Linked DNA regions of Homo sapiens: region 1 is linked to region 2. A link means that fine-mapping ties the variant in region 2 to the expression of a gene that starts in the linked region. Tissue or cell type: tibial artery. Region 2 holds a variant in brackets; the other region holds the start of a gene. All regions are shown on one strand. Distances are between the middles of the regions.

What was found. PIP is the estimated chance that this variant, and not a neighbour inherited with it, causes the effect.
Region 1: it holds the start of ITGB3BP, and the variant in region 2 is fine-mapped to the expression of ITGB3BP in tibial artery (GTEx, PIP above 0.99).

The regions. Positions count from the first base shown.
Region 1 is chr1:63,521,364-63,525,363 of GRCh38, forward strand. It overlaps ITGB3BP (integrin subunit beta 3 binding protein), which reads right to left and starts at 1,862. Exons shown (of 9, transcript NM_014288.5): 1 at 1,766-1,862. The coding sequence starts at 1,770. It overlaps EFCAB7 (EF-hand calcium binding domain 7), which reads left to right and starts at 2,162. Exons shown (of 14, transcript NM_032437.4): 1 at 2,162-2,271. RefSeq lists enhancers at 1,261-1,884, 2,046-2,125.
Region 2 is chr1:63,061,195-63,066,418 of GRCh38, forward strand. No RefSeq gene overlaps it. Among named protein-coding and RNA genes, the nearest start is that of LINC01739, 51 kb to the left of the region's middle. The variant T/C (reference allele first, on the strand shown) is at 2,539.

The sequences.
Region 1 (4,000 bases), 460 kb after region 2:
TTTGCTAAAACTTAGAAAATTAGCAAAGTAATTGCTAGTTTCACATATATATTAGCTATATATGTGAGATGTTAACCTCAACTTTAAGGTTGTGTATTTATTACCAGAATATACTTATCTAAAAGCCTAATATAACATCTTGTGTGCATATGTTAGGAAGACAGTTGTCAAAAAGGTCCACTTTTAGGCCTGACACAGTGGCTAACTCCTATAGTCCCAGCACATTGGGAGGCTGAGGTGGAAGGATCACTTAAGCCCAGGACTTCAAGACCAGGCTGGGCAACACAGGGAGACACTGTCTTTACAAAATAAAAAAATTAGGCATGGTGGCATGTGGGAGCCCAGGAGGTAGAGGCTGCAGTGAGCTGTGATCACAGCACTGCACTCCAGCCTGGGCAACAGAGCCAGACTCTGCCTCAAAAAAAGAAAAAAAAAGTTCCACTTTTCATAGTTTTTTGGTTCCCCACTCCTATACACAGATACACACAGTTCAGGAGGTATTACCACTTGTTTGGCAAATACACCTCTGTTTTCACTGTATTCTTAGGGATTTTGTGTGTGTGATTGTGTGACATTATCTTTGCAGCTTTGTTTATTTGAGAACTGGATGATTTTTCTAATGCAAGAGTAGGGAAACAAGTCTCTTTGCTTAATTCTGGGGAAAGGAAAACCTCCTCAATAATCCATAACTTTTAAGGGCATCAGTAAAACATGCATTTATTGGCAGCTGTGTTGAACACCCTATTAGGTGATGGGTTTCTTTATCTGTAAAGATAATAGCAGCCCCCATCCCCTAAAGTATTTTAGGATTCAATGAAAAAACGTAGATAAATTGATTAATACAGCACCCACATTGTAATTCAAGATTCAATAAATATAGGTTATCATTTCTGTACAGCTTTCCCCTTTCATGTCAATTCCTATTTGATACAAAAATTTCCCCAGCTGTGTTACTTTGCATTTTACTTAATCCTGAAATAAACTAAGGAACAGGTTACACTAGAGGGGGTACCTAAATCAACCTGAGGACAAGGACGGCCAAGGAGAAATTACAGGTGTTTGATATCCACCCCACTCCCCCAACCTTTAATGGCTTTTTTAAGTTTCTATAGGGTAGCAACTATTTTATGCATCTCAATATAGGATGGATGAAGGATATGAAAAACAGATGAATCTTATCTAGCACAATGCCTATTCCCACTATGGTCATTCTCAATAATCAGATTATTGGTCATAGATGGGAATTTAGAGATCATGCAGTACAAACTTATTTGTGTAAGTAAAAAAAAACGAAGCTCAGGGTCGATAAGTGACTTGCCCAACAGTGAAAGAGTCTTATCTGGAATCCAGGTATCTAGACCCACTCAGTCCATGAGTTCTCCCACGGGTTTACACGAACGCGCCACATTAATGAAGGCAAGGGACTGACAAACTACGAAGGCGTGTTTTCATCTACTCTGTCCCATCCTGTGTGTCAACCTTATTTATGTTATTTCAAGTTAGACATCACCTAAATACAGCCCACAGTTTACGAAATCTGTCAAAAGCATCGTAGAAACAGAAAGCGAAGGAGGACTATCGTATGAGTACCGCTGGAGGAGACGTAGAGTTGAGGGTACCAAGCGAAGGGAATTGCCTGTGGACAGAGGAGACAAGTTCATACTCCGAAAAAATAGGAAAACGAGAAAGGCTACTGGGCCACATAATATCTTCTCTTCTTGCAGAGGGCCCCCAAAACAGCAATACCTGGGGAGGAGATACCTACGGCATTCTGAGATTCGGGAAAGCACCACTGCCGCTGAATAAAACGAACCCAGCAACTTCCGAAAACAGAAAATCCGCCAAAGGAAACGCCAAGGCATGAAAAGCGCGCGCTGGACGTTGCGTCAAGCCCACCGCGGCCGGGCGGAAACATCCTCCCCGCGACGAAGGATCCGGGTGTGCGCGAGCAAAGGAGCGAGCGGGGAGTTCTAGGCCCAGGACAGCACCTATTTCCTGCTGGTGTAACAGAGCACCTTCTCTCACTACTCTGGCCATACCACCCCCGCGATAGAGGAGCAACACAGCTGTCTCTGTGCGCTCCGGATCAGCGCTTCCTAGATTTCTAGCCGGATCGTTTGGAGAAGGGCTCTGCATCTTATTTCCGGTGGCGGTGAGGTGCAGTTGCCATGGTGATTAGAGAAAGGCCGAGATCTGTCCAGCTGCGGTGAGAGGAACGCTGAATCGCCGAAGAGAATTGGCTGCGCTTCCTTGTTTGTGAGCTAGAATTAGGTAGCAAACAGCTCGCTGTCTCTGTCTCTTCGCTCCCTCTGTCCCTCTCTGTGCAGCTGCTTCTCCTTCCTCTGCTTTGTCTACTTCTCTGTCATAAACATTTGGTCCATGTATGTACCTAAAATGTACATGTAAATGCGGTTTTATTTCCAGAGGAATACAAAAATAGAGAGATGGTGCCCGAGATTACCTGTGACGGTATTTCACTGTGTAGGGACGGTGACTGGACGGCTTTCTGTTTTCACTTGGCCCTGTAGAAGCCTTAGGCGCTTGTTAACAGTTTATTTTTCTTGCTATTGTGTGGCTGGTTATTTATGGAGCCGTTTGCTGCAATGTACTCTCTAGGCCCCTGTCTCAGTCTCGGGCCGGAGTTTTAAGTAAGGGAGGTTTCCAAGCCTGCGGGGGGTGCAATTATATGTTTATTTAAGCTTTAGTTTGGTTTCTCGTCACAGAAAGGAAAAGAATAAAATTCTGGCACATTTCTGCCTTGGGATTTCCATGTGAGGGAGTTGCCTTGTTTGGAAAGAATATTTGAGGACGATCCTAAAATATACTTATATTTTAAAATTGCTTATTGCAAAGTGAAATTCATTCTCCCTTACTTCTTGAAACAGTTTTCTTTCACATTTGTGAGGAGATGCATGCACACATATGTGTTTAGAACTCTGATGCTTAATTATAGTATTACCAATTTGCAGTAACCAGACTGTGACACCACATCCCTGTGGGGTCCTTCTAAATCTGGTGTAATATGAAAGTGTCAGGCAGGCGGCCTGCGTATTATAAATAGGGTACTTCATCCATGATAAGCAATTATTATCTTTCTTTCCCAAGTGTAAATGATCTATATAATTCGAAAAGGTGCAAGTGATTTAGGCCTCCTGAGTAGGAATGCAATGAGTCCTGAAGGGGACCCTACCTGTGTTATCTTATTATTGAACTTGAAATATTCAATTTATTAGGTTGGAGATCTATTTTTAGAAGTCAAAGCTGGGTAGAGTAATATTGGAAGCTGTTAGACCACCAGTAGAATCTAATACCCCATAGTAACCATTGTTCAGTACTATATCCACATTAACAAAGAAGAAACTGTTCGTGAAATTTACGGCTTTTTGCCACTTACTGCTAGCTGGGTGACATTGCTACCCCTCAATTTCCTCATCTGTAAAACGGACAAAAAAATACCTGACCGCTGTAATAGGGATAAGACAAGATGTATGACAGTTCTTTAAGCTCTTATGTACAGAGGTGCTATACAAACCCCAAATATTGTTATTAATAAAGGAACACAGTAAAACTATGATAATGCTATAAATAAGACTTTTAAAATATAGCTATTTGAAATGTGGGGCTGCATTATTGAGATGTTAATGAAATGATCTTGTTGATCCTGCTGTGGAAGATGGGTGTCAACTACCACTCATATCCCGATTCTCATTATTCTGGAGTTTCTCATTATCTGCAGTTTATTTAGCACTTACTACGTGTCAAGCAATATTGTATATGCTTCACATGTATTAACTGATTTGCTCCTCTTAAAAACCTGATGAAGACTGTCATCTGACTTTCGTATTTTGAGAGAATAGATGTGTGCTCTTCCTTTGTTCAGTGATTCTTCTCTTGTGTATATCTTTGTTCTTTTGGCTATTATCACATATTTGAACAATTATATATATACATATGTATATATCTAAAATTAGAAATTAACTGCCAAAGGCTTATTCTTGTT
Region 2 (5,224 bases):
TCAGTCCAAGTCCAGAGGTCTGAAAACTAGGGGAGCTGATGATATAAGGCCTGATCTGAGTCTGAAGACTGAGAAGCAGGAGTGCTGATGACGTCCAAGGGCAGGAGAAGAGAGACGTCCCAGCTCAAAGAGATAGAAGATTCAGGCTTCCTCTACCTTTTGTTCTATTCAGGCTACCAGTGGGTTGAATGATGCCCGTGCACATTGGGGACGGCAATGTAGTGAGTCTACCAATCCAAATGCTAATCTCTTCCAGGACCACCCTCACAGGCACACCCAGAAATCATGTTTTACCAGCTATCTGGGTATCCCTAGCCCAGTCAAGTTGACATATAAAAGTAACCATCACAATGCATGTGATTCAGACATGGATATAAATAATTACAATACAGTCTGAACACCTTATAATAGAAGTATAAATAAATAATCATAGCAAAAAAGAGGTGCAACTGACCAGCTTTGCCATGAAAAACAGGGAAGCTTTTATAGAGGAGGTGACATCTGAAAGGGCCTTGATGTAAGAATAGAAGTTCACCAGATAGTGGCGGGAGAAGGACATCCCAGAGAGAGAAAACAGCACATGCAGAGAGAAAGAGAATGTAAAGAGAGATAGGGAGGGTAGGCACTCATGGCATGTTTGAAGAGTGAACATTATTTTAGTACAGTTGAAGTGTAGGTTGTATGACAAGCAGTGGCTCGAGATGAGGCTAGAAAGGTAAGTTAGGACTAAATTATGGTGGGCCTTAAAAGCCATACTGAGGATTTGGGGCTCTAGCTTATGGATCATACATCTTTAGCACCTAACAGAGTTCCTGGAACATAGTAGATCCTCAATAAATATTTGTTGAGTTTGTTGTAGTAATTGAAATGGTTTCCCATTTATCCAAACACCCAACTCTCCAGCCTTTTAGCCTTTGAAAGAAGGAAAAATGTATAGGGAAAAAGAAGCGGCAGCCCAGTGTGGTGGCTCATGCCTGTAATCTCAGCACTTTGGGAGGCCGAGGCATGTGGATCATGAAGTCAGGAGATTGAGACCAGCCTGGCCAACATGGTGAAACCCCATCTCTACTAAAAATACAAAAATTAGCCGGGCATGGTGGTGGGTGCTGTAATCCCAGCTACTTGGGAGGCTGAGGCAGGAGAATCGCTTGAACCTGGGAGGCGGAGGTTGCGGTGAGCTGAAACCATGCCACTGCACTCCAGCCTGGGCAACAAGAGCAAAACTCTGTCTAAAAAAGAGAAAAACAAGCCAAGTGAGGAGACAAGGGGCAGATGATGGCGCAGAATAAAGCCACCAGAAGAAATGGCATGGGATTTGTTGCTGGACTCCCAGGTTTGAAACCTTGCCTTGGCACTTGCCATTTGTGAGAACTTTGACAAGTCAAGCAACTGCCTGAGTTTAGTTTCCACATTAGTAAATGGGAGTGATAATAGTATTTGCCAAACTACAGCATTGTGTGAAGGACCATTCCAGATTTCAATGAAAGCTCTTTAGACCTGGCAAAAGTTACTCACATTTAGGGCAAACCTGAGGCCATTCAAGGGAAGGTAAGGGTCTCAGGGGTGGAGGGGAGGGGGGTGGGGCATTACACATGGAGATAGGGAACCTGACAGCCCAGGATGACTGATTCCCATTTTCCAGGGCAGTGAGAGCCTTGCTAACACTGGCAAATGATTGCCATTTCCCTTGTCAGGCAGTGACAGGAGTTAGTTGACCTGAAAATTCACTAATAGTTCCATTAGAGAGGCCTTGGAAGTAGCCATCTTTTTACTCATCCTGGTCAATTAACAATGAATTAATGCCAGATGTATTTTCAATTGAGCTGAATGCTGATTTCCCCCCATTTTACTAAAAATAGCCCTTTATAGAGGGACAGCTAACCAGGAAATATCCTGCTTTTCTTCCCAAGTCTGTTCTGGAGCATTTCTGAACCAATGTTGGCTCTCGGCAATGAGATAGTATGTCAAACCCTGAATTCGAGATAGGATACCCAGGTTTAAGTACCAGCGTCCTCCGACACCAGCTTCATGTTCTTCAACAAATAACTGAAACTTTCTGAAGCTCAGTGTTTTCACATGTAAATTGAAAAGGCAGGGATGAATCTTAGTCCCTTTCAGCAATAAAATGTTAGGAGACCATTTTAACGTGGTTTTGGGCACGTTGGTGCAATGGCAGGTTGGACCTGGGGGTGGGGAAGGGGCGCTGAATTTCTCCCATGCACTCTGAACTAGGAGTCAGGATACTGGGGTCAAGTCCTGATCCTTGTTCTTGTTCAGTGGTTCCCTACTTGGGGAGGTAGGTGGATGCAGGATACGAGGTGTGGTATTTGGTCATGTCTAGAGACATTTTTGTTGTCACCACTGGGGGGTGCTACTGGTATCTAGTGGGTAGAGGCCAAGGATGCTGCCCAACATCCCATAATGCACAGGACAGGTCCCCTGACAAACAATTGTTAGGCCCCAAATGTCAGTAGTGTCAAGACAGAAAACCTGCTTCAGTGTCTTCGTTTGTAAAATAGGGATGATAATAAAACCTGC[T/C]TCTTTCTATCATCTCACAAGGTTGACAACCAAATCAGGTAACAAATCAAAGGCGCCTTGAAACTTAAAAGTACTTTAAAATGGGGGAATAATATCTTCATTATTAACCCACTTTTGCTACTCCGTGAGCCACTTCATTGGTGTCTATTCTCTTATTCCTCTCTTGGACATAGAGTCCAATTGCTTCTCCAGCCTGTGGCAATGACTTCTGTACTTGACCTCTAGGAGATATGACTCATAGCCTTCAAACTCAAACATGCATGATAGATCCTTTATGTTTTCATTAATAAGGTATATTTCTGTTACAATCCTCCATCTGTCAGGGGTCAAACTCTTAATCTTGGACAGTACAGAATTCCTCTTCGTGTTTCCTTGAGGTTGCATTCTTGTTCCAGGGGTTTATGTAGGAGTAAGGCCCTGCAGCTGGAGAGGGGACTGTCATATTCTCGGTAGTCACCTATCTATACTAGCATTCACTGAAATGTCATCGCTTGTCGGGTCATCTACCCATCCAGATCACTGCAGGGTCCTCCTGCAGGACCACTGTTTCTCAGAGCAGGAAGAGGGCATTTTGCTGCTCTCTTGTAGCGCCCTCTATGTAGTTATCTCCCATCTATCTGCCAGATGCCCATTCAGCTGAGTCTACCTACTGTTTCATGTCATCTGAGGTCTGAACTCTCCACTACTGGCAAATTGAGCACAGGTTATCTCTGCTTTTGAATTCCCCCCAAACCTATCTGGGGTTTCCATTCCCCCTCCCTCCAGAGTTTCTGCCTTGGGGAGGTGGGTGGCAGGGCAGAGGCCCATTCTCTAGGGCACACATCCTTGTTGAATGCTCTTGCCTGACCATGGAATCTCTCTCCTCTAGTCCATCCAGTTTGCCTAACTCAGCTTATTCTAATTACCTTTATCACAACCCCTCTTTTGCAACCCCTAAGAATTTTGCTACTCCAAAGACTAAACTTTTGAAATTCAAACAACTTTTTTCCTCCAGAGAAGATATATAGGTGGCCAATAAATACATGAAAAGATGCTTAGCACCCCTAGTAATGAGGAAAATACAAATCAAAACCACAATGAGATGTCATGTCACATATCTCAGGATGGCTATTATCCCAAACAACAGCAGCAACAAAACAAAAACAGAAAATAAGAAGTGCTGGCAATAATGTGGAGAAATTGGAATGCTTGTGCGTTGTTGGTGGGAATGTAAAATGTTACAAGCACTGTGAAAACTAGTATGGTGATTCCTGGCCAGGCGCGGTGGCTCATGCTGGTAATCCCAGCACTTTGGGAGGACAAGGCGGGCGGATCACTTAGGGCCAGGAGTTCAAGACCAGCCTGGGCAACATGGCGAAACCCCCTCTCTACTAAAATACAAAAATTAGCCAGGTGTGTTGGTACATGCCTGTAGTCCCAGCAACTTGGGAGGCTGAGGCAGGAGAATCGCTTGAACCCAGGAGGTGTAGGTTGTAGTGAGCCAAGATTGCACCATTGCACTCCAGCCTGGGTGACAGAGTGAGATTCCATCTCAAAAAACGAGCAAACAAACAAAAAGCTACTATGGTGATTCCTTAAAAAATTATACCATATAGTCCAGCAATTCCACTTCTGGGCATATACCCAGAAGAAGTGAACACAAGGACTCAAACAGCTATTTGTACACCCATGTTCACAATAGCATTATTCACAAGAGCCAAAAGGTAGAAGCAAATCAAATGTTCATTGATGGCTGAATGGAACAACGAAATATGGTCCATACATACAGTGGATTTATTTAGCTTTAAAAAGGAAGAAAACTCTGACAGATGCTACAACATAGATGACTCTTGAAAACATTATGCTAAGTTAAATGAGCCACATATAAAAGGACAAATATTATATGATTCCACTTCCACGAAGTACCTAGAGTGGTCAAATGCATAAGACAGACAGTAGAATGGCGGCTGCCAGTTGGGGAAGGGAATGGGGAGTTCATCTTTAATGGTTACACAGTTTTGGTTTGGGAAGATGAGCATGTTCTGGAGAACTTTTGCACAACAATGTGAAAGTACTTAATGCCATAGAGCTGTACACTTAAAAATGGGTAAAATGGTAAATTTTATGTTATGAATATTTTACCACAAGTTAAAAAAACCTTTTTTCCTCTTTTCTTCTGCAGCCAACCTTACTTAACAATCTGGTTGGATGAGGAAGAGGTATCACGGAAAATAATGAAATAGCTAAAAAAAAATACAGCTAATATATGAAAATATTATCTTATCCCAGACCTACCAAACAGATTTTCTTTGTCTTTTCCTCGGAAAAGCAGAATCACCATGGTGATGTAGAATCTAATTGTCAAAGGAAAAAGTCAATCAGGATCAATTCATTGCAAGCTTATTGTATCCTTTATTCCAATTTTCTAATCTAAATTTGGATCCCTGGCCAAATCTCTGTTTTTCTCTTTCTTTCTCTCCCTTTCTCTCTCCTTCCCTCCCTGCCCCACCTCCCTCTTTCTCTCTTTTAAGATTTACCTAATTAGGAGCGACTAATAGTGGTCACCATTTTTCCAGTTTTTGAGTACATCATTAGTAGAGTAATATACATGGGTTCCAGATAGTTTAACAAATGGTGTTGGGGCAATTGGTTTTCAAAAATGAGTATGATTCATTGTACATCTTGCACTAAAATAAATTCCAGATAA